Homo sapiens: one gene and its partners. The protein of the gene in region 1 purifies or fractionates together with the protein of each later gene. This does not show direct contact. Each region holds a gene or a part of one and is shown on either strand. Other genes may lie near its edges. The genes, in order: CDKAL1, ALCAM, LETM1, TTYH3, DNM3, RAP1B and BPIFB1.

Evidence for each region.
Region 2: the proteins of CDKAL1 (region 1) and ALCAM purify together in Homo sapiens (affinity purification with mass spectrometry; one large-scale study listed by BioGRID and IntAct). This does not show direct contact.
Region 3: the proteins of CDKAL1 (region 1) and LETM1 purify together in Homo sapiens (affinity purification with mass spectrometry; one large-scale study listed by BioGRID and IntAct). This does not show direct contact.
Region 4: the proteins of CDKAL1 (region 1) and TTYH3 purify together in Homo sapiens (affinity purification with mass spectrometry; 2 studies listed by BioGRID and IntAct, with this or other methods). This does not show direct contact.
Region 5: the proteins of CDKAL1 (region 1) and DNM3 purify together in Homo sapiens (affinity purification with mass spectrometry; 2 studies listed by BioGRID and IntAct, with this or other methods). This does not show direct contact.
Region 6: the proteins of CDKAL1 (region 1) and RAP1B purify together in Homo sapiens (affinity purification with mass spectrometry; one large-scale study listed by BioGRID and IntAct). This does not show direct contact.
Region 7: the proteins of CDKAL1 (region 1) and BPIFB1 purify together in Homo sapiens (affinity purification with mass spectrometry; 2 studies listed by BioGRID and IntAct, with this or other methods). This does not show direct contact.

What each region holds. Positions count from the first base shown.
Region 1 is NC_000006.12:21,195,457-21,198,956, reverse strand, and holds part of CDKAL1 (threonylcarbamoyladenosine tRNA methylthiotransferase), read right to left. Parts: intron 937-3,500; coding exon 853-936; intron 1-852. UniProt on the Homo sapiens protein: Catalyzes the methylthiolation of N6-threonylcarbamoyladenosine (t(6)A), leading to the formation of 2-methylthio-N6-threonylcarbamoyladenosine (ms(2)t(6)A) at position 37 in tRNAs that read codons beginning with adenine.
Region 2 is NC_000003.12:105,534,409-105,537,908, reverse strand, and holds part of ALCAM (CD166 antigen isoform 1 precursor), read right to left. Parts: intron 3,247-3,500; coding exon 3,064-3,246; intron 1-3,063. UniProt on the Homo sapiens protein: Cell adhesion molecule that mediates both heterotypic cell-cell contacts via its interaction with CD6, as well as homotypic cell-cell contacts. Promotes T-cell activation and proliferation via its interactions with CD6.
Region 3 is NC_000004.12:1,846,157-1,849,656, forward strand, and holds part of LETM1 (mitochondrial proton/calcium exchanger protein precursor), read right to left. Parts: intron 3,054-3,500; coding exon 2,993-3,053; intron 1-2,992. UniProt on the Homo sapiens protein: Plays an important role in maintenance of mitochondrial morphology and in mediating either calcium or potassium/proton antiport. Mediates proton-dependent calcium efflux from mitochondrion.
Region 4 is NC_000007.14:2,634,986-2,638,485, reverse strand, and holds part of TTYH3 (protein tweety homolog 3), read right to left. Parts: intron 1-3,500. UniProt on the Homo sapiens protein: Calcium-independent, swelling-dependent volume-regulated anion channel (VRAC-swell) which plays a pivotal role in the process of regulatory volume decrease (RVD) in the brain through the efflux of anions like chloride and organic osmolytes like glutamate.
Region 5 is NC_000001.11:171,847,998-171,851,497, reverse strand, and holds part of DNM3 (dynamin-3), read right to left. Parts: intron 1-3,500. UniProt on the Homo sapiens protein: Microtubule-associated force-producing protein involved in producing microtubule bundles and able to bind and hydrolyze GTP. Most probably involved in vesicular trafficking processes, in particular endocytosis.
Region 6 is NC_000012.12:68,652,399-68,655,898, reverse strand, and holds part of RAP1B (ras-related protein Rap-1b isoform 1 precursor), read right to left. Parts: intron 1,788-3,500; coding exon 1,647-1,787; intron 1-1,646. UniProt on the Homo sapiens protein: GTP-binding protein that possesses intrinsic GTPase activity. Contributes to the polarizing activity of KRIT1 and CDH5 in the establishment and maintenance of correct endothelial cell polarity and vascular lumen.
Region 7 is NC_000020.11:33,307,214-33,310,371, forward strand, and holds the end of BPIFB1 (BPI fold-containing family B member 1 precursor), read left to right. Parts: intron 1-2,494; coding exon 2,495-2,554; 3' UTR 2,555-2,658; downstream 2,659-3,158. UniProt on the Homo sapiens protein: May play a role in innate immunity in mouth, nose and lungs. Binds bacterial lipopolysaccharide (LPS) and modulates the cellular responses to LPS.

The DNA of each region.
Region 1 (3,500 bases):
TAAGATGGGAGAGGAGGGCGTATCCCATCTCTTCCCTGGCCTTGGCCCTTGCCAGGGTCAATGACCCTGAAAGAGGCACTCTCTTTTCCTCAGTCACTTTTGAATTGCTCTCCCACCTGGAGGAGTAGAAACCCTGATGCTGAAACAGAAGTCAGGCTCCTCGGTGGGCAAAGGCAGGCCAACTTAGATGGCCAGGGAAGGAGGGCTAGTAATTGGGGGCGCCCCTAGGGATGGCCTTCAAAGCTCTCACAGTGAAGCTGGTTTGATCCTCACACTGGTCTGCACAGTTGTTCATACAATTAGAGTTGAGTCCAAGGAATAGACTCCTTTTCCTCTGCTCCCAGCATTTTTATTAAGGTAGAAGTTAAAAAAACAGATGCTAAAACTAAACAAAACTAAAAAACCAACCAACCAACCAACCAATCAACCAACCAACTAAAAAAACTGTCCGGGTGATGTACCAGCGAGAGGAAATCCCTGCCCTTTCATGCTGCTGTCGCCCATGCAGACATCCTTCCTGTGGTCTGAGCAGGACTTTCCCCCCTGCTTTGCCAGGGTGTGGGAATTCTGGCAGTGCTAATTGCCTGGTTCCAAACGCCCAAAAGCCTAAAGCTGGTCCTGTCAAAGATTAATGTGAACTAAAATAGACTAAATACACCTATTCCTTTGTACAGAACATATTGTAGAGTAAGTCACAAAGATAAAGTCCATGTTAGCCTGGCTGGCTTGAAGCGATAAAACAGCCTTGTTGTGACAAGATTCAACACTCTCCCCTTTAAATGCCCTTTGCTTAAACTTTCAGAACTCTTTCTCACTTTGGAGAAAACTCAAGAATACTGAAGTGCCTCTTACCTGCTCATAGAATTGATTGTGTGCAACATAAAACTTGGAATCAAAAGATTCTTCTGTTACTAACACTTGTTGTCTTTCACCAATCTGTGGAGAGAAGGGGAGGGAAAGAAAGGAAAGATAAGGGTAAACACCTGTGAATCCAAAAATAAAAATAAAGGCTAGCCCAGGTAGGTCTGGACCAAGTAGCGTCTTCTTGAATTTAAAGTAGACTCTACATTGCTGGTTATTTAACAGCGAACCCTGTTCAAATCACGGATTCAAATTTTTTGAAAGACATTAATTATCTGGCAACATAAAATTAGCATAGTATAAACTCTTATTTTCTTACATAACTCTGAAACAGAATTTGATCTCCTTCAACATAAGTAAGATAATTAAAGCTTCTATGACATACAAAAATCTTCTAAATATCACTTTGTTTCCTGAAACAAAGTTGCAAAACAAGCCAGAACAAGCTGCTTCTAATCCAAATTCATGAAAATATTTTGGCAATATGAAAGAATAGTAATAAACATTCATTTGAGTTATGAGGGATGTAACACTAAAGAAAATGCCTCGGAAAACTAGTCATTAGGACCTTGCACCTCCACATTTCATATCTTACATACAATTCTGAAAGTACTGAGTAATTCACAGAGCTATTTACTTATTATATACATTTTCTCTGTCACAGGCAACTGTCTCTTTGCTGCAGTCATGACCCCATGTTCATTTATTATTTTTTAAAGAGAAAGACAGCAAAAACATGGAATTGCTAATTTTCCACAGAATTGATGTACATTATGATCTAGGCACCCATTTTTAATAGCAAAGAAGTAAATCAGCCAAAACAATGGGTAAAGAAGTGTGACTATTCTAAGGAAATTCTATAATTTCCAAGTTTATTCTACTGTGAAATGCAGCACTTAAGGTATCAAGTATTATTATTATTATTATTTTTTTTTTTTGAGACAGAGTCTCACTCTGTCACCCAGGCTAGAGTTCAGTGGCATGATCTTGGCTCACTGCAAATTCCGCCTCCCGGGTTCAAACGATTCTTCTGCCTCAGCCTCCCGAGTAGCTGGGATTACAGGCATGCGCCACTATGCCCGGCTAATTTTTATATTTTTAGTAGAGACGGGGTTTTGCCATGTTGGCCAGGCTGGTCTCGAACTCCTGACCTCAGGTGATCCGCCTGCCTCGGCATCCCAAAGTGCTGGGATTTCAGGCATGAGCCACCATGCCTGGACTCAGTTACTCTTTTTACAAGGTTGTCAAAATGTCTGATACAGCAAAACAACTGTACTGAATGACTGTGCCGGGGATTATTTTTACCAATGCTACTTAATAATTATGACCCCCCCAAATTAAAGCCCACTGGCAAGATAATTTTTTAAAATTCCTATTCTCATTTGTAGGGACTTGTCACCATGTTCAGGCGGTTACCATGAAGGAAACATAAACACAGCTGCACTAAATAGACCACCTAACAATTAAAAAACAAATCAAACTCCCCTCTCTATCATACAATGCCAGTACCTAAATACACCATAATTTACTATCTAGTTTACTATCTCATTCAAAATATAGCCCTCTTAGCCAAAAGTTGTAAGGTCTCTGAGATGACACTTACTAAAGACTCTTTTCACTGTCTGAAAAACAATGGAAGTTCTGGCAACATTAATCCCCTTAAAAAAATCAAGTGTAAAAAAAGAAATTTCCCCCAACTTCCATGTTGAGCTTCAATGGCTCTGTTTATCAAAAAGGGCTGGTGAATATTGGGTATCACTGAAGTATATTCTTCTAGAAGAAAACTTAGAATGTTTGCACACATTTCACAGTGTGAGTTGCTTATGACTTAGGATAAGTATCTGTCAATGGTTCTTAAGGAAATCTGCAATTACACTTCATTTAACATCAAGTTTTCAGGAAATTAACAACAATGTGAAATTGTAGAGCCACTGAAAACTATGCTGCTTCTTTCTTCTTCTTAGAATCAACGTGGAGAGTAAGGCCCATCATGTTTGGGCTGCTCTATTTCATCTGGAGATGATAACAATGACAGTAATATATACAGAGTTAAAAAGACTTGCTATGTTTATATAGTAGAAAGCTGGGCTTTTAATCAACCATAAGAGAACTATTTGTAGGTGAGTATTTAACTATTATTTGCCAAAGAGACTCAGGAGAACCGCAATGTGCACTAATTCATAGTGGCAAACACCTTTTCAGTCATCCTATTTGTGTCCTCAACTGAGGAGTCATCCTATTTGTGTCCCCAGTCTCATTGGCAAGGCCCTTAAAAATCTCCAGAGTGGCCGGGCCCGGTGGCTCATGCCTGTAATCCCAGCACTTTGGGAGGCAGAGGTGGGCAGATCACTTGAGTCCAGGAGTTTGAGACCGCCTGGGTAACATGGCAAAACCCCGTCTCTATAAAAAATACAGAAATTAGCCGAGTGTGGTGGTGTGTGCCTATAGTCCCAGCTACACGAGAGGCTGAAGTGGAAGGATTGCTTGGGCCTGGCAGATTGAGGGTGCAGTGAGTTGTGATCATTCTACTGCATTCCAGCATTGGTGACTGAATAAGACCCTGTCTCAAATAAATAAATAAATAAATAAATAAATAAATAAATAAATAAATAAATAAAAAAAACATCTCCAGAGGCCAG
Region 2 (3,500 bases), on another chromosome or scaffold:
TTTATCCTACAGTCCTTCTTCATTTATTCATTTGTTTGGCATCTATATTGTGCAAGCCTTAAGTGCTGGAATTAGGAAGTTGAAAACCCTGCCTCAATGAACTTTTCCTCTATTTGTAAAGACACCAAACTTAATAATTAAGAGTATGACCACATAAAACCTGCATATGACACAAGCATAGGGATCCTGGTAGCCATCATTACATGAGACTAGGAAGCTTCCTGGAGGAACTGACCCTGGAGCTGGGTTTTGACACATAAATGGGTATTTGCTAAATGATAAAGGTGGGAAAATGACAGCATATGCATAGGCATGTAAGTATTACTCTACAGAAGGAATCTGGAAAGTAGAACAGACCACAGTGGATACAGGCAGTGATGAGGGTTGAGACATACTGTAGGACCATGGCTAAAACGAACTCAAGGCATACTGCAATTGGGGGAGGGGGAAGGATATTAATCTGAGAGCTCTGGGGAGTCACTGAGAAGTTTTTGTCACATTTGTGTTTTAGAAAAATATTTCTGGCAGCAGTTTGGAGGGCAGTTTATTTGGGGGTGAACAGAGAATGGTGGGCAGACAAGAGAAATACTATTTTGCAATTCATTGGAAAAATACTACTTTGAAATCCATCGCAGGAATAGAGGCAATGAGGAATGGTGGCATAAACGTAGGCAGTGTCAGAAGGCAGAAATCAGATCAAAACAAAGATTAAAGAGCTAGATTCTCTAAAACCTCGTTACTGATTGAATAGGGTAAGAAAGGAGTGGACTGGTGCATTTTTCTCAAGCTTTCTCAAGATGAATTGGCCAATTTTTTTTTCTTGAAATGGACTCGTCTCTCCTTTCCATTTAGCACTCTTCTTCTGTTCTCTGAAGTCTTCCTAGAGCAGTGGTTCTCCACTCGTAGTCCTCAGATCAGCAGCATTAGCACCATCAGGGAATTTGTTACAAATGCAGAGTGTCAATCACCGTCCTATACCCACTAAATCAGAAACTCAAGGCCAGGGTGCAGTAATCTGTGCTCTAACAAGTCCTTCATGTTCTTCTGATTTACACTACAGTTTGAGAACCACTGTCCTTGGGCACCTGAGCCCTCAAGACTCTTAATACTGAGTTCCTAAGACTTTTACCCTTACAACCTTGCATTGGCAATTTCCTTCTGATGTAGGTGTCTTGTTTCTCTACTGGAGTAGTACACTCCTTGAATGTGAGGACTGTCTTAAACTGCTTCTTTGTGCTTCGTGTTTTCACCATGAAGCCCACTGTGGCTTCTTAAAAGCCATGACAAGTGCACCTTACACAGCCAGCATGATAAAATCATTTTCTTCGTATCCATTCAAGAACTTCTCCGTCTACCCAACTCTGCATGCCTCATACTCACAGATATTTCTATTCTTTCTGAAGCCAATTTCCCAATTCTTATTACTTATCTTGATGTTCTCTCCTGTGTTGTACACCTACACTTACACTAATATGGTTTATTTCCAATTGAATATTTCTAACAGAAAGAATTCTGGGCCGGGCTTGGTGGCTCACACCTGTAATCCCAGTACTTTGGGAGGCTGAGGTGGGCAGATCACCTGAGGTCAGGAGTTCGAGACCAACCTGACCAACATGGTGGAACCCCACCTCTACTAAAAATACAAAAATCAGCAGGGTGTGGTGGCATGCGCTTCTAATCCCAGCTACTTGGGAGGCTGAGGCAGGAGAAGCACTTGAATTCAAGAGGTGGAGGTTGCAGTAAGCTGAGATTACGCCACTGCACTCTGGCCTGGGCAACAGAGTGAGACTATGTCTCACACAAAAAAAAAAAAAAGAAAGAAAGAATTCTGCCTTCACCTAAAAAAGTTTGATTTTAGATAAGCTATACATAATGAAATATTAATTTCTTGGGTTTAAATCAAGTTGAAACTTATTTCCCAAGTTTAAGGCAAAACTACCTTTTAATATTAGGGCAACTTTGGAAGAATTTCACTTTTGTTCTCATATAAGATATTGTGCCCTAGGGAACCAAAAAAAGAAATGTAGGTGAGGTGATTCTTTCGAAAGGCTCAGCAGGCATTCCTGGCTTTTCTCTAAAATAGATGTAGAAGTGCTAGGTTACTGTAGAACACATGCCAGTATCACAAAAATTTTAGATAAATTAATAATAAGAAGAAAATCCTTTATTGCATTTTCCCCCCAAATATCTTCAGCTCTATGTTTATATTGTGATAATGACCATATAATAATAATAATAAAGTACTTAATAATGACAATTTAATGTGTGATGTAGCATGCTATTTTTGATTTGTGATTTCACTTACTCTCTATAACAACACTATCAGTTAGGTATTATATTTTTCCCATTTTAAAGTAAGAAAACTGAGATGTAGAGTAATTAAGCTACTTTTCAAGAAATGGTAATTGATAATGCTGGGACTAGAATTCCAGAATTTTTGCTTCTAATCATTAGATTATCTTGGCACCTGTCTTACAAGGAAAGCACAGCAATGGAGAAAAAGATTCTATTCTAATATCTACAGCTAATTTAGGGCAAGACTCTGTGCCTCACTTTACTAACTAAAATAATGAAGTTAGAACAGATGACCATGAAGATTCCTTTGTAGACAAATACTCTGTTTCAAATACACAATTTAGTTAAGTAAAATGTCTTGTAATACAACATCCTATCAAACTTATGCAATTGATCTTATTATTAAAATAAATTTCTTCATTAAAATGGTAATCTCTTATTTAGAAAGCCAGTTAAAGTCTATATTTGTCTGTCATTCATCCAGAAAATAAGTTATAGATCTTATCTTTAAAGAACTTAGTGTGTAGTGGAATTCAGAAGAGACACTCATAGATAAAATGTAGAGAGTGAAAGATATTATAGGATGGATAAATGTTTATTCATGCTATGGTCTCCTAAAGAGGAAGAGATTATTTGGGTGCCATCAATTTGGGGTGCAGACTGGAAGCAGAATTCAAAGAGTAATTGGATTGGGACCTCAAAGATTAATAGCATTTGAATATTATTTCTAATACATTAAATAGCATAATTATATATTGAATTACTTACAGTAAATATCAAATACTGCCTGTTCAGAATGAATTGTTTTCTGGCCAGATGGTCCATAATATGTCACCGAGCAGGTGAATGGCATTTGTATGTCAGCCTTGGTTGTCTTGTACTCCAGGGTGGAAGTCATGGTATAGAGCTGAGTCACTGGGTCCATTTCCTTTTTAAAAATTATGACCACCGCTGAAGAAAATAAAGAACACTGATGATAGGGTCTTTCATCTGACAATCACAATCCTTAACGAAACAGCACCACACCTTTGAGAAGTGTTTTTTTTCCTTCTAACTGTATTCAGCAGGAGAGAAAATTGACATGTAGTGAGGTTAGATGTCGTTTCAAAACCGTGAATCAGAGACACAGAAATAGAATCCTGGAATCCCTTTTCCCACTCACTTAATTAACTTCTAGATCATGCCATATACAGAAATTATTTCCT
Region 3 (3,500 bases), on another chromosome or scaffold:
TCATCCATAATTCTTGATAAGTAGACAAGTCCATCAAAACAGCTGTACAGTCCTCATTGTTTAAATTTTTAAGTAGATGTTCAAAATTGGGAACTTTAAAAAAAGTTACGTGAATAAAGTACAGCTTTTATGTTTTGTTGTTAGCCCAGGCTGGAGTACAGTGGCGCCATCTTGGCTCACTGCAACTGCCACCTCCCGGGTCCCGGTTCAAGCAATTCTCCTGCCTCAGCCTCCTGAGTAGCTGGGATTACAAGAACATACCACCATGCCCAGCTGATTTTTGTATTTTTATTAGAGATGGGGTTTCACCATGTTGGCTAGGCTGGTCTTGAACTCTTGACCTCGTGATCTTCCCGACTCAGCCTCCAAAAGTGTTGGGATTACAGGTGTGAGCCACCGTGCCCGGCCAGCATTTATGTTTTAGTATGAAATTTAAATGCTAAAAAGTTGCTTGACAAATTCAACATCCATTCCTAATAAAAAGAGTAACAGACAGAACAAAGATTACTTAAACCCAAAAGCTAACATCATATGTCACAAACACTAGATCCTGTATTTTCTGCTATTGTGATACCGCATGACTGACTACAGCTGTTCTGACACAGATCTGGCTACTGAGCTAAGAAATGAAACCACCTCAGAAGCAGAAGCCCTGGGAAAGAAGAGGCAGATGATTACTATGTACTAAGATCACAGCCATAAACTAAACCTGGGCTGCTACAAGAGCTGAACAAATAACAGGAAAGGGGCCAGATACAAGAAAATTGTACAACTTAGCAACTTACGGGACAGCAATGATCACTTAGAAAAGATAATGAAAAGAATTAATGAAAATAATAAACATCTGGGAATTATCTAAAATGCAATGCATGTGGCCTATACAAAGAAAACAGGCCGGGTGCAGTGGCTCACACCTGTAATCCCAGCACTTTGGGAGGCCAAAGGCAGGAGGACTGCTTGAGTCCAGGAGTTCAAGAGCAGCCTGGACAACATAGTGAGAACCTGTCTCTACAAAAAATACCAAAAAGAAAAAAATTTAGCAAGGCATGTTGGTAATGCCTGTAGTCCCAGCTACTCAGGAGGCTAAGGTGGGAGAATGGCTTGAGCCTGGGAGATCAAAGCTGCAGTGAGCCATGATTGCACCACTGCACTCTAGCCTGGGCAATGAACAGAATGAGATCCTGTCTCAAAAAAAAAAAAAAAAGTAATATTCCTTCCCAACTGGTTTAATGACACTTCAGATACAATCCCAAAAAGACTGTTTTAGAAGTAAAATGGTTCAGCTCATCTAGAAGGAAGGTCCAGACTGACGAGGTTTGGGGGAACTGGTCCCCAGGGAGGAACAACTGCTGGAGAACTCACTAAAGAAAATAACGGGAGCAGCTAGGCGCAGTGGCTCACACCTGTAATCCCAGCACTTTGGGAGGCCGAGGTAGGTGGATCATCTGAGGTCAGGAGTTTGAGATGAGCCTGGCTAATGTGGTGAAAATTTTGTACTTTTGTACTAAAAATGCAAAAATTAGCTGGGTGTGGTGGCGGCGTCTCTAATCCCAGCTACTAGGGAGGCTGAGGCAGGAGAATCGCTTGAACCCGGGAGGCAGAGGTTGCAGTGAGCCGAGATTGCACCACTGCACTCTAGCCTAGGTGACAAGAACAAAACTCGGTCTCAAAAAAAAAAAAAAAAAAAAAAAATTAGCTGGGTGTGGTGTGCGCGCCTGTAATCCCAGCTACTTGGGAGGCTGAGGCAGATAACTGCTTGAACCCGGGAGGTGGAGATTGCAGTGGGCAGAGATCACGCCACTGCATTCCAGCTTGGTGACAGCGCGAGACTCTGTCTCAAAAAAAATAAAAATAAAAAAAAAAAAGAAAATGCAACCTTAAGGAAAAAGACATAAGAAAACCAATTTCTTTTCTCATCCAAAGTTATAATAAAACGTTATTCGTGGACCTTAAAGTTGCAGTTTCTGCCAGGCATGGTGGCTCACACCTATAATCCCAGCACTTTGGGAGGCTAAGGCAGGCAGATCACGGGAGGTCAGGAGTTCAAGACCAGCCTGGCCAACATGGTGAAACCCCGTCTCTAATAAAAATACAAAAATTAGCCAGGTGCGGCCGGACGCGGTGGCTCATGCCTGTAATCCCAGCACTTTGGGAGGCCATGGCGGGCGGATCACGAGGTCAGGAGATTGAGACCATCCTGGCTAACACGGTGAAACCCCATCTCTACTAAAAATACAAAAAATTAGCCGGGCGTGGTGGCGGGCGCCTGTAGTTCCAGCTACTTGGGAGGCTGAGGCAGGAGGATGGCATGAACCCGGGAGGTGGATCTTGCAGTGAGCTGATATTGCGCCACTGCACTCCAGCCTGGGTGACAGAGCGAGACTCCGTCTCAAAAAAAAAAAAAAAAAAATTAGCCAGGCGCAGTGAGGCATGCCTGCAATCCCAGCTACTCGGGAGGTTGAAGCAGGAGAATCACTTGAACCTGGGAGGCGGAGGTTGCAGTGAGCCAAGCATGTGCCACTGCACTCCAGTCTGGGTGACAGAGCAAGGCTCTGTCTCAAAAAAAAAAAAAAAAAAAAAGAAAAAAAAAAAGTCGCAGTTTCCAAGAACCTACAGACATTAAATGAGACTTGCTGTACATCAAAATACTGACACTGGGCACTTTGAGGGCACAGTTGCCAGTGCCCACTCCAACTGGGAGTCCAACAATTAAATTCCATTTAATTCCTGTTAGGGGACAGGAAGCCTTCTGTCCCCAGCTCTCCAAGTGCAACTGGGCACTGAGGTTAGGAATGTTTCTATACTGTCTATAGATTCACTGAGGCATGTGACAATCATTTTCAAAATGGAAAGATAAAGGTTTAAAAGAAACAAAGAACAGGAAAGTAGGATACACTGTTTCCCTCAAAAATCAAGAGTCACTCGTGACTCTCCACCATTTTCAAACCCTGTTTTCAAACAGACAGGTGCAGAGTGATACTGATTTACTCACAGGCAGTTCCTCAACCCCAGGGTGCTGGCACAGCTGAGATGAGCAGGATCCCCTGGACTACCTGTAACAGGAACAGGGGAAAATAAATGAGTAGTAAATCAGGGATTTATACTGATACCTTTTTTTGTTGTTGGTTTTTGGAGTTTCGCTCTTGCGCCCAGGCTAGAGTGCAATGGCGTGATCTCGGCTCACTGCAACCTCCACCTCCTGGGTTTAATTGATTCTCCTGCCTCAGCCTCCTGAGTAGCTGGAATTACAGGTGCCCACCACCATGCCCAGCTAATTTTTTTTTTTTAGTAGAGACAGGGTTTCATTCACCATGTTGGCCAGGCTGGTCTCAAACTGCCGACCTCAGGTGATCCGCCCGCCTTGGCCTCCCAAAGTGCTGGGATTACAGGCATGAGCCACCGTGCTCAGCCTTTTGTTCATTTTGATTTATTTGACTTTGCCCAGGCTGGAATGCAGTGGTACAGTCACGGCTCCCTGCAGCCTTGAACTCCTGGGCTCA
Region 4 (3,500 bases), on another chromosome or scaffold:
AGGCCAGAGAGGCAGCCCTGGGGCTGAGGCTCAGAGCCGCTCCTGCCCGTCTCCCCACAGGCCGGGCCCCTTTCCTGCACCCTGTAGCCGGGGGACCCCAGCTCTCCCGCTGCCCACGCCCGCCCTCCCCCTCGTGCAAGGAACAGACACCAAAGAGCTGCAGCAAGCGTGTCTATTTTGGTCCCCGTGCTCCGACACATCTCCCAGCGTGACACCCGGAAAATCCCCTGCTCTTCCCACTTGTCTGCAGCCCTCTGCACCAGCTGCCTGGGGACCGGGCCCCAGGCCTCAGACCCAGCCAGGAGCCGCCAGACTGGAGCCCCATCTCCGGGATCAGCTCCCTACCAGGGAGAGGCAGCCCAGAGGGCACGGCCGAACCCCAGACACAGGGCTGCAGGGCTCAGAGCTGGGTGCACCCCAGAACTTCAGGAGTGCTCTTCCACGATGGCCAGGAACCCAGCCAGCGTGCACAGGCCCGAGGGGGGCAGAACGGCTAGGGGCACTGTGGCTGGTACCCTCCTCAGAGGCCGAAGGCACTGGCACTCTGTGGGTGGCCCGGCTTCCTCCCACACCCTCGGCCAACATGGGCCTGACCCAGCCACAGTGGGTGCTGCCCCACAGGACTCAGGTCTCAGCCAGCCTCCCAAGACTGTGAGAAGCCCCCTCGGATGGTGTGAGGCCCAGCACAGGGCCTGGGTGGGCTCCCTGCAGAACATAGCGGCAGGCCCGGGTACAGGAGGCCCTCCTGTGACCCTCCCACACCCACCATCCACCCGCTGTCACATGCCAATTCCCCGGTGGCCACGTCAGGCACTTCCCATGTCCTTGACCCCAGGCCCCTGGCTGCAGATTCGGTTCCTCTTCTCTAGCCGAGGCCTCAGCAGAACTGACGGTGGGGCAGGTGGGGGAAGTGTAGATGCCCCTGAGCCCCCTAAACCTGCACCCCTGGGTTCACGAACTGTGCTGACGCTGTATCCACTGGGACGGACGTGGCTGGGCTGCAGCTGGAACCCGTGCCCAGTCTTCCGGCCCCCCATGCTGGCCGGCCCCCGTTTCTGCTTATGTCGGGGACACAGTGTCCACCTCCCAGGGCCACTGGGTGGCTCTCCAAGAAAAGTGCTTTAGAAACGAGCAGCACAAGCATCCGGGGAGAGCCGCCGTGGCCTGGGGAACCAAGCTGCAGGGCTCCCCGCTCCCCCAGAGCCTGACCAAGAGCCCCCGGCCGGGGGTCAGAGCGGCTGACACTGCAAATCCCTTAGACGGGGTTGGCTGGCAGGGCCTGCCCAGGGGTCAGGGGAGGAAGAAGGGTCACCATGGAGATGCCCAGAAGAGGGGTCCTAGAGCTGGCCCTCGAGTCTCAGGCGAGTGGGGGGCAGGCGGGGGTCCCGCACACACAGACTGGAGTGGCCCCTGGTGATGCTAGAACTGGGGAGATCAGGGAGCCAGCACCCTGAGCAAGAATAACCACCCCAACATCCACACCTACAAAAAGCCGTGAAGACCTCGGGGACTTCTAGAGGGTCCCAGGCTGCTGCACTCCAAGGAAGGGGCTTGAGAACCCCAGAGTCTCCTGGGGACAGAGGTGGCCAGAGTACCCTCAGAACCACAAAAACCAGGAGCCCAGATATAGGAACCCTTGATGCGGGCAGCGGCCGGGCCAAGGGTGGCCTGACACCCACCCCAAGCAGGTCCAGGGCCCACAGCTTCACACCCCCTGGCCAAAAGGCAAGCTCAGCCAATCGGAGTCTCCCCAGGAATGCAGACACCGGCCAAGATGGAAATCCTGAGTGGACTGGGACCAGCCATCAGGGGCTTCCTGCCCACCTCCACCCCCCAATGCAGGGTCCCATTCGCTGTACACCCCCAGCCTAGTTCATCAGCTCCTGTCCACTCAGGGATTGCTCCTGAAGCTTCCACCCAGCTCCCCGGGGGCCTCCGTGTCTGGCCCGCTTCTGTCATCTGTAGGTACAGAATCCTGCCTGGCACCGTGGGACGCTGGACAAGCATCTGGAACACGGTCCAAAGTACGAGACATGTCAAAAGCAATAGGATTCCAGTTCTCAGGGACACCCACCCTACAGCTCTATGCTCTTGGACTGAACCCAGCTGGAGGGACGCTTCTGTCTCACGCTCTTCCCTTTTCCCCAAATGTTCCATGAACGTGTACTGCTTTCGTAAATGACAAGACAGGCGACAGGCGACCAACACTGCCGTTTTAACCAGAACTCATTTCCTTCTGATGAGTGGGGAGGATGATAACAGGCCAGCCCTGCCCCAGGGAACTGCCCCCCAGGCTGCAACTGGGCACAAGGCTGACCTCACCTTGTGGCGGCACAGACAGAGGTGTTGTGCTCTTAGGAGCCAGGCTCCCAACTCTGCTAGGAGAACACTGGCCCTACTCCCAGAGCTCAGATCCCCTCTGAGTGGCCATCCAGCCTGGGCTGGCACAGTGCCTGGAACAGAGGGCTCACCAGTTCCTGAGGCAGCACATTCCCCGTGCGCAGTCAGACCAGAGCGACCCTCTGGCACGTGGGGCTGAGGCCTCTCCCCGAGGCTCAAGCTTCTCTCTGCCTCAGGGCCTTTGCACCTGCCGTTCCCCCAGCCCAGAAGCTCTTCCCCAAGGTCTCTGTATGGTGACCTCAGTCTTATCATTAAGGTCTCAACAGAAACATCTGGGCATTCCAGGCTCTAGTGGAAAACACGTCCCCCATGCTAGGCAAACTGAGGCAGGGCCCACTATCTGCCCTGGAAGGCAGATGTCCCAGTGAAACCATCACCTGCCAGGGCCAGCACGGCCCATGGAGGAGTCAGAAATGAGCAGGCAAATCCTAACCCTCTGATTGTCGGCAGCCGGGCTTGCAACCTCCATGGCAAGCCAGTTAACACCACCTCCTGCAGGAAGCCTTCCCTGACCACTGGGCTCCCACCGCCTGGGTTCGCAACCCACCACAGTCCGTAGCTGTTGTCCTGCATCTGGCCTGCCCTGAGCTGGAGGAGACAGCCCGAGAGAGAGGCTGAGGTCAGTGGGCATGAACTTGATCCCTGCCTGAGGACACGGGGTCACAAAGGGCTGGTGGGAGCTGAGCAGGCAGGCCTCCCCCGAATAAAGCCCAGGACAGTGTCTGGACCACCCAAGGTCACGCAGGAAGAAGCGACAGAGCGAGGGTGCAGGCCTGCGATGCTCTAGCTGAAGAGAAGGCTCTGCTGCCCTCAAGGGCCCCTGCCCGGGGCAGGACAGCCAGACCCACTTGACATTCAGGACTCACTATGCAGCACTGACTGGCCCCGGGCCACGCCAGAGGCCTCAGGCCCAGCCCTGCCAGCTCAGCTGCAGGGCCACCAGGGAGTCTCAGGCCTCCTGTGGGCCTCCAAATCCCTCCTGTGAACAACAGCCCCCCATTCACTCAGATGCTCAGGCAGCACGGGAGCCCCTCTCGACAGTCACTGGCTGGGGAGCTGCACAGAGCCGACCCCAGATGCCCCTCCACCCCCTGCCCTCT
Region 5 (3,500 bases), on another chromosome or scaffold:
AGGTTGCAGTGAGCTGAGATCATGCCACTCACTGCACTTCAGCCGGGACGACAGAGCGAGACTCTGTCTCAAAAAACAACAACCGTTCTAATCCAAGCCCACTCAACTATTCTCAACCAATTTATTGATGACAAAGGTATGTTTCAGCTTAGATAAATGGCTTGTACAGAGTCAAGTAGCTGATTCATTCAGTTAGCTCCTGCCATATGCCGGCACTGCACTACGGAAAATGATAAAGGAGACACAGCTCCTGGCTTCGTGGAAGCTGCAAATAGTTGAGCAGACAGAGGAGGCAACCAACTGTTCGGTAGATTCCTGTGCAGTGAAATATTAACAAGGGCCACCAAGGAGGGGCCTCTAAATCAGACAGATAGAGCTGAGAAGACCAGCAGATGACAGCAGAGGCCAGACTAAACCCAGCTCTCACTGTTCTTGGCATGCTACCTTGCTTACCTGTGGCACACTTTGAACAAATATGCAGGGACCACCTGCCACAGGGAGCAGGAGAGAACCAAAGCCACCCCAGACTAACTCATTCACAAATACTCCTAATTCTCACAGTGGTTGAACCTTACCAGTCTTTTCTCTTCGTATGTCCCTACAATCTGGTGGACACTCACAAAAGCATTGCTTCCTCCTTCTCATCTCCCCACTTACTCTGCAAGCAAGGAACTCATGATCCTTCTGCCACTTCCCTTCTTAACTTACTCTGAGGAAAAAAAAAAAAAAACAAAGCCCTAAGAGAATATGTAACTTTCAAAGTACATAATTCAAATCAAGTACCCACACATACACATTTTACATGATATGTTTTTAGGATTAAATAAACAGGCTAAAGTTTCTTAAGTTGAATTTACAAGGACTTCAGTATGCAGGTCGTTCTATCGGTATTTAGATGAGAATGCAGAAATCTCACCACACAATTGTTGCTGTCCTGGTAGTAGGACTCAGAACCATGAATGCTAGGATCTATAAAAATAATTGCAAGCCTTTGCCCCTCTTTTCAAAATATGAAGAGAATGGGTCTTAGTTTTATTAACCAGAAAACATAAACAGACACACATATACAGGGTTCTAAACCTCCACTAGATAAGAAACCCAAAGCTATTCTTTTCAAAGCTTCTGAGGTATATCTAGTAACTTAAAAATAATGTAATTCCAAACAGAACCAGCTGACTAGCTCAGAGCTAAAACTGATGGTTAACAAGTTATGGGAATGTCAATCAAATCAGAATATGAATCTTTCCACTGGAAAAAAGAGTGATTTGGTATTATTTCAACATCTACTACAAAAATGTTGGTACTTCTTTTAAGATCTAATTACACCTTACCTCCTGAACACTTGGTTGTAGATGGTTTCCTTGGGCTCAGACCATACTCTTGCTAAGTAGTCCTGCTTCGCCAACTAGACTTCCTCAATTGTTTTTCCCCCTTCTACACCATCTTTGCCTGCAATTTCATCTAACATTTCCAAAAGAAAAGGAATATGCTAAGAATGGTTTACTTTATATCACAGCATCAAATATCTTCCTTAAAATATATTCTCTAGGAGAAAACTAAAAATAATGTCAGAAAAATTCATTTTAATTCTATTATCTGTTATTAAGTCTATTTTGTTCATTAATTTCTAGTACTCACCATGTGACCCCAGTATGTCACCCAACTTTTTTCCAGCTTAATCTTTTTTATTTCTAAATTAAAGTAAACAAAACATGCTTTTGCTATCTTCTCACAGAAATTCGAAGGATTAATGAAATGATAAAAACTGCTTTGGAACTCTTGGAAGGGAAGAGTATACAAACTGGGTTCACTTTGTATATATTGGTTTAAAAAAAAAAGAACACATTGTGATAATGCATTTAACGAATGTGGGCAATGCTTTCTTTAAAGAAGGCTCAAATATATTCTATTAGCCTTATCTACAAGTAAGTATTTTGATGCAACTGTAATTTTCCAACATTCACGAAAAGAATTTGCAAATACGCATTACCATCTGCCTCAACTTACTTTTGTTTTTAAAACACTCAAAAAATGTCCAGTCTAAATAAAAGATTTAAATTAAGAGCAATCAGTTATTGAATGCATACTATGGACCAGGCACTTGATACCATCTTACTCAGAACTCACACACAGATTAAAAGGTGAAGTCTGCAATCCCTATTTTGCAGATGAAGGAACTGAGGCCAAGTGAGGCTAGATTCCGTAATGAGGAGCCATGCTACCAGTGAGAGTCAGAGGCAGGACTCAAGAGCTGCCAGCAAAGCCTGCACTCCATCACCATGCTGTGATGACTCCTCTTCAAATACTCACTTTTGAGAAATCTAAAAAAATAAGCACCATAAACAAGTTTAGTCACCCATCAAATTACTTATCAAATAGATTAGTCTTTCAATTCCAAGCCACTGGAAGGATAAACAATGAGGTCCTTCAGGATACCTAGCTACTGCTATCATGTATATATATGCTATTCATGGGTATATCATGACCTTGAAGCAGTGGGAAATAAAAATGACACACTGTCACAAAGAAGCACTGAGGTACATTTTAAACCCTTGGAAATAGAGGACTTGCAGCAGGGATATTAGAGAAAAACAAGATCTAAAGCAATCCTGTATCATTCATATAATTCCGGAATTAAATGTATCATCATTTTCCTCAACAACTGCTCTGTTTTTGTTATCAATTAACACTAAAGACAATGCAATATTAATGCTTGTTGAAAAATTGTTAAAATAATCTCTATAACATTAATGGACCTCAATGTCACTCAATGCACTCTAAGAATGCAAACACACACACAAAAAGAATAGAAAACAGGCAAACTGAAGGATGCAGATTTGCTACACAAATACATCTTTATTTTACCTAAAAGTTCACCCACTTGTTTAAATAATAACATTTCCATTTAGATTATTTATTTACATACAACTTTTCAGAAGCTCGTGTTGGTTTAAGCAAGGCCTATTGATGACCATCTCAGGCATATCTTTCTAGCTAATGCCCACCTGGTGGATAAATATTAATAATGTGTAAAAACATCCAATATCTTATTTAGTCTTTTCCTGGGCCCATCTGTTCCCTAAAAGTCACGCTTTACTCACGAGTATACTATTTCAGTCAAATTAACTTGCCTAAGTCTGAGAAAAATTCTGCTCCCTGTCTCCACTATTCTGTATGGGAAAAAAAAGGTAATAAAATGCAATGTCACTGCTGGTCAACTATCAAGAAGAGTAATGAAAGAGAGTATCACGGAAGAGAAAAAGGCTGGCCCAATGCAAAGGGATGGGAAAAGGAGGAGGCAGGGTGAGGGTTGGAGGGAGGTGCTCTAAAACAATAACAGGAGGAAGAGAAGATGATGAACTGGCACAGGCCTCCCAGTTCCTAACATTAAGTTCCAAACCTAGCTCTGATTTCTTCTGACCTTGGGCAAATCTCTGGTTTCTCTGTATCCTACTGTGCTCCAGGAAGTTAGAGAAAATCAAGCCAGAGAAAAGCTTCTT
Region 6 (3,500 bases), on another chromosome or scaffold:
ACGGAAGGCTCCCAAAATAGAATTTTTAGTTTCTCATAGTCTTGTATTAAAAAAGTCAATCAAGGCCAGGCACAGTGGCTCACGCCTGTAATCCCAGCACTTTGGGAGGCCGAGGCGGGTGGATCACCTGAGGTCAGGAGTTGGAGACCAGCCTGGCCAACATGGCGAAACCCTGTTTCTACTAAAAACACAAAAATTAGCTGGGTATGGTGACACACGCCTGTAATTCCAGCTACTTGGGAGGCTGACACAGGAGAATTGCTTGAACTTGGGAGGCAGAGGTTGCAGTGAGCTGAGATCGTGCCATTGCACTCCAGCCTGGGCGACAGGGTGAGACTCCGTCTCAAAAAAAAAAAAAAAAAAGCCAATCAAAATTTACTAAAAATCAAGCCACTTATTAAATGGATTTACAAATTAAAAAATGTTCCCTGAGGTTGCTGTAATTATGTAGGGTCCCCCCAAATTCCCTTGTTTCAGAAGTCCAGAAAATAAAAGCATTTACCATGGGTGTCTCCCAGCTCTCACAATATTTGCTAAAATTAAACTGCAGTACAATGAGTCTTATTTATGTATTTATTTTGAGACAGGGTCTCACTATGTCACCCTAGATGGAGTGCAGTGATGTGATCTCAGCTCACTGCCAACCTCCACCTCCCAGGCTTAAGTGATCCTCCCACCTCAGCCTCCCAAATAGCTGAGACCACAGGCACGCGCCACCATGCTGGCTAATTTTTTTTTTTTTAAATTTCTGGTAAAGGCAGGGTTTTGCTATGTTGCCCAGGGAGGTCTTGAACTCCTGAGCTCAGGGGATCTACCCGCCTTGGCCTCCCAAAGTGCTGGGATTAGAGGTGTGAGCCACCATGCCCAGCCTGGTTCTTACAGTATGCAGATCAGCAAAACCAACACCACTTCGAAACTTGTTAGAAATGCAAATTCCTGGGTCCTACTGCTGACCTACTGAATCAGAAGCTCTGAGATCTCAGCCCAGCAATCTGTTTTAACTGGTCCTACAGGTGATTCTGATGCAAAATCAATTTTGAGAACCACTGCTATATTTAGTGTGATGAGGAATTAAACTCCATTATGGTAGACTCTGAAGGGGCACCTAAATTAATAATGTTAGAATCTAATGTATTTCTTGCCTTTAAAATCCCAGCACTTTGGGAGGCTGAGGCAGGCGGATCACAAGGTCAGGAGATCGAGACCATCCTGGCTAACATGGTGAAACCCTGTCTCTACTAAAAATACAAAAAACTAGCTGGGCATGGTGGCAGGCGCCTGTAGTCCCAGCTACCCGGGAGGCTGAGGCAGGAGAATGGCGTGAACCCGGGAGGTACAGCTATCGCACCACAGCACTTCAGCCTGGGCAACAGTGCAAGACTCCATCTCAAAGGAAAAAAAAAAAAGGAAGGGTGTAACATTTAATTTTCACAGGATAATGGCAAAGGAGGAAATTTCTCACTTTCCACATGATATATATTTGAAAACATGTATGGGTATTTTTGCCTTTCAAGGAAAAAGTTTAAAAAAACCAACACCCCCCCCCCAACCAAAATACACAAGCTTTAAAATGAATTTAAATTTAGACTTAAACAATTATAATCAGGGTTTTGAAATAAAATATATTTATTTGGAAGTCAGCTTACATCATCAGTGTCTTTAACTCGAAGAATCTGTTCTCTCAGGTCTTGTAAATCGTTAAATGTGGACTGTGCTGTGATGGAATAAACTAATGCAAATCCTTGTCCATTTTTCATGTATAAATCCCTCATTGCTGTAAATTGCTCCTACAATAGAAAGAAAGGAACGTTAAAAAACAATAATGTTTTGACAGTTATTTTTACAATTTTCACAGTCTATAATTATAGCTCAATGAAGAATACTGTAGTATTATGTAACTTTGTTAAAATTATAATCTATGACAAGATACTATTTGAAAAAATTGGCATTTTAGTTTCTTTTTTTTTTTGAGACGGAGTCTTGCTCTGTCACCACGCTGGAGTGCAGTGGCGCGACCTCGGCTCACTGCAACCTCTGCCTCCCGGGCTCAAGTGATTCCCCTGCCTCAGCCTCCCGAGTAGCTGGGACAACAGGCGCACACCACCATGCCCGGCTAATTTTTTTCTTGTATTTCGGTAGAGACGGGCTTTCACCATGTTAGCCAGGATGATCTCCATCTCCTGACCTTGTGATCTGCCCGTCTCGGCCTCCCAAAGTGCTGGGATTACAGGCGTGAACTACCACGCCCAGCTGGAAATAGGTTTCCTATTTAAAAACAATACACCAAAGTCGATTTATATACAAAAAATATACTCAAGTGGAACAGAAATATCCTGTCCCCAAAAGTTACTAAAGGCAGCTTTTAAAATACATCATCATGTATAAAGCACCCCAACTGTATCTGCCAAGTTAATCTATTAGCTATGACTCAAATGCTGTAGTTCTGTAGGGCTCCATCAGCATGATCTAGACCATCCCATTTTCCCACACTACTTTTTCTTTGCTAGACTGTGAGCATTTGAAGGTAACAACACAGTGCCTGACATGTATCAGGTATTCAAACATTAGCTGAATGAATACCATACACCGAGAACAAATCTTCCCTTCATCTTCACATACCTACAAATTTAGTTTGTCTATAAATACGTTGAAGGAGAACAGATACCAATCAAAATATTTCTTTTTCTTTTGAAATGGAGTCTCACTCTGTCACCCAAGCTGGAGTGCAGTGGTGTGTTATCAGCTCACTGCAACCTCTACCTCCAGGGTTCAAGCGATTCTCCTGCCTCAGCCTCCCGAGTAGCTGGGACTACAGGTGCCTGCCACTGCACCTGGCTAATTTTTGTATTTTAATAGAGACGGGTTTCACCATGTTAGCCAGGCTGGTCTTGAACTCCTGACCTCAGGTGATCCACCCCCCTTTGACCTCCCAAAGTGCTGGGATTACAAGGCATGAGCCATCATACCCAGCTCAATCAAAATATTTCACACAGCTGCTGATGAATGAATGTATGCCTGTATTATTTGAAATATGGTAATATATTGTTTTAAAAGTACTAGTGAGACTGAAAATTTTTCTTCTAACACATTTTCTAAACTTTTCAATAACTGACCCACTGCAATTACAAAAAGTGCAATATACTTCCTCCGCCTCCCGGGTTCAAGCTATTCTCCTGCCTCAGCCTCCCAAGTAACTGGGATTACAGGTGTGTAACACCACGCCCGGCTAATTTTTTTTATATTTTTAGTAGATACGGGGTTTCACTGTGTTGCCCAGGCTGGCCTTGAACTCCTCACCTTAAGTGATCCACCCACCTTGGCCTCCCAAAGTGCTGGGATTACAGGCGTGAGCCACTGCGCCCGGCCAATATAAAATTAAGGATTCAACGGAACAACAACAAAAAGATTTAAAGTTTAGCAACTAGTAGTCTTATGTTTTTTTTTGACACAGAGTCTCGCTCTGTCACCCAGGCTGGAATGCAGTGGCACAATCTCCACAG
Region 7 (3,158 bases), on another chromosome or scaffold:
TTCATTCATTCATTCATTCATTCAGTAATTCACTAAATATTTTTCGAGGGTCTTCTATAGGCAAGCCATGCTTCTGAGTGCTTGAGGCCACCGAAATGAACAAATGGAAAACACTCCCATCTTTTTCAAGCCTACCTTTTAGCAGAAGAGGCAGATACACAAGCCCTAAAGATGTAACATCAGGCTGAGTGGAGGAAGGCTGAGAAGAAAAATAAAGCAGGCTCAGGAGGAGAGAGTGATGTCAGGGAAGGGGGTGCTGTTTCAGATGGGGTGGCCAGGGAGGGCCTCTCTGAGGAGGTAACATTTGAGCCAATGCCTGAGGAGGTGAGGGGTGAGCCCTGTGGGTAGCTGGGAGAAGTGTCCCGTCAGAGGGACAGCGTATTAGGCCGTTCTCACACTGCTATAAAGAAATACCTGAGGCTGGGCTCAGTGGCTTGTGCCTATAATCCCAGCACTTTGGGAGGCCAAGGTGGGCAGATCACCTGAGGTCAAGAGTTCGAGACCAGCCTGGCCGACATGGCAAAACCCAGTCTCTACTAAAAATACAAAAATTAGCTGGGCGTGATGGCGGGTACCTGTAATCCCAGCTACTCGGAAGGCTGAGGCAGAAGAATTGCTTGAACCCAGGAGGCGGAGGTTGCAGTGACCTGAGATCACGCCATTGCACTCCAGCCTGGGCAACAAGAGTGAAATCCATCCCCCCCCCAAAAAAAAAAGGAAAGAAAATAAATACCTGAGACTGGGTAATTCATGAAGAAAAGAGGTTTAATTGGCTTGTGGTTCTGCAGGCTGTACAGGAAACACGATGCTGGCATCTGCTCAGCTTCTGGGGAGGCTTCAGGAAACTTCCAATCATAGCGGAAGGCAAAGGGGAAGACTGCACATCACATGGCCCAAGCAGGAGCAAGGGGTGGGAGGTGCTACACACTTTTAAACAACCAGATCTCACAAGAGCACACTCACCATCACGAGAACAGCACCAAGAGGATGGCGCTAAACCATTCACAAGAAACCAGCCCCATGATCCAATCAGCTTAGACCCCACCTCCAACATTGGGTTCTACATGAGATTTGGGCGGGGACACAGATCTAAACCATATCAGATGTCAAGTGCAAAGGCCCTGAGGCAGGGATTGTTGGTGTTCCAGGAAAGATGAGGAAGGAGGCCCAGGATCTGAGGCAACATCCAAGGCAGGTAACCTCATAGGCCTGAGATGCATGCATGCACACACACATATACACACACACACGCACACCTTTATACACCTATACACATACATACACACGCACATACAAACACATACACCTTTATACACATACATACACACACACACCTTTATACACCTATACACATACATACACACGCACATACAAACACATACACCTTTATACACATACATACACACACACACCTTTATACACCTATACACATACATACACACGCACATACAAACACATACACCTTTATACACATACATACACACACACACCTTTATACACCTATACATATACATACACACACACATACATATTGCACACATACACACCACACACATACACACTACACACACACACATAATACACACACCACACACATACACACTACACACACACATACACACACACATAATACACACACCACACACATACACACTACACACACACCACACACATACACACATACATACACACACATACACAGAGACGCACACATACACATATACACACATACACACACTACACATGCACATACACATACACACACACACACACACCATGTGGCCAGATGGTCTCAGCTCAAGGCCAGGATCATGTCCATCTTGTCCATGCCTCTGTCCCCGGTGCTCAGCATGGCCTGGCACACAGTAGGTGTTCAATAAATGCTTGGTGAGCAAATGACTCTCCGTGGCATCTGCTGGGGAGAGGATCTATGGCAGTGTCACCCTCGCTCCCAAATACTACCCTTAAGAAGAACAGCTCACAGTCACTGTGTGCCAGGCTCTGGGGCATCTCTCCCCCTCTAGAGTGGAGCCAAAACTTCAAGAAGGCAGGGGTTTCTGTCTGCTTTGTTCTCTGTTGTGATCAGTGGCTGCACACAGTAGGTGTTTAGTAAATGCCTGCTAACTGAGATGGACACCTTACTGTCATTAGCTCATGCAGAGGAGGGGCCCAAAGCAGGGGGTGATCAAGGCGGGTGCTAAGTGCAAATCCCACTTCTGCCACCTACTGAGTGCGTGACTTTGGAAAGGGGCTTTTGCCATCTTCAAGTCTCAGTGTCCCCATCTGCAAAATGGAGATGACATCAGGACCTGGTGTGGCATTAATGTTCACACACAGACCCTCCACCCCGACCCTTCTAAGAATTCTGTATTTGTGGGTTCAGGGTCATGGTCCCCCGGTGCCAGCAGTCACCTTATGGAGGACAAAACCAGCATAAACCACAAGGCAAAAGGTTAAAGAAACCTGTTTTCTGACTTTTCCCCTCCAATTCCAGGATGCCCTTGTGCTTACTCCAGCCTCCTTGTGGAAACCCAGCTCTCCTGTCTCCCAGTGAAGACTTGGATGGCAGCCATCAGGGAAGGCTGGGTCCCAGCTGGGAGTATGGGTGTGAGCTCTATAGACCATCCCTCTCTGCAATCAATAAACACTTGCCTGTGATGCCTGCCGTCTGGAGTCTCTTTGTCCCGGCACAGGAGTCATTTTGCCCCTGGCAGGCTTGGGGACTGGATGGCTGAGCCACACCTGGGTCATGTTCAGGCACATCTGAGCCAATCTGGGTGATGTCTGGGCCACATGTGGATGATGTCCACAGTCTTGACCACCTCCCTGTGCTTCAGGAATCAGAAAGCCAGCTCTTCCCACCTGCCTTCATGTCAGCCTCAAGACCATCTTCAGTGGGATGGCTTTTAGGGTGGGGGACATATGTTTTGTTTATCTTGGCAGTGTGGTGGACAGAGGACTCTCTGAACAATGTGGATCTGGGGGCAGATGAACTAGGCTTGGAGCTCTGGCTGGCCTCTTAATGCTTCTTTGACTCTGGGATGTAGTTTCCCCTCTGTGGGCCTCAGTTTCCTTCTCCGTAAAATGGGGATAGTCATTGTCTCTGCCTTGGAGGGCTTTGGTGAGGAGTAAATGAGAGAACAGTTCCAGATACATGG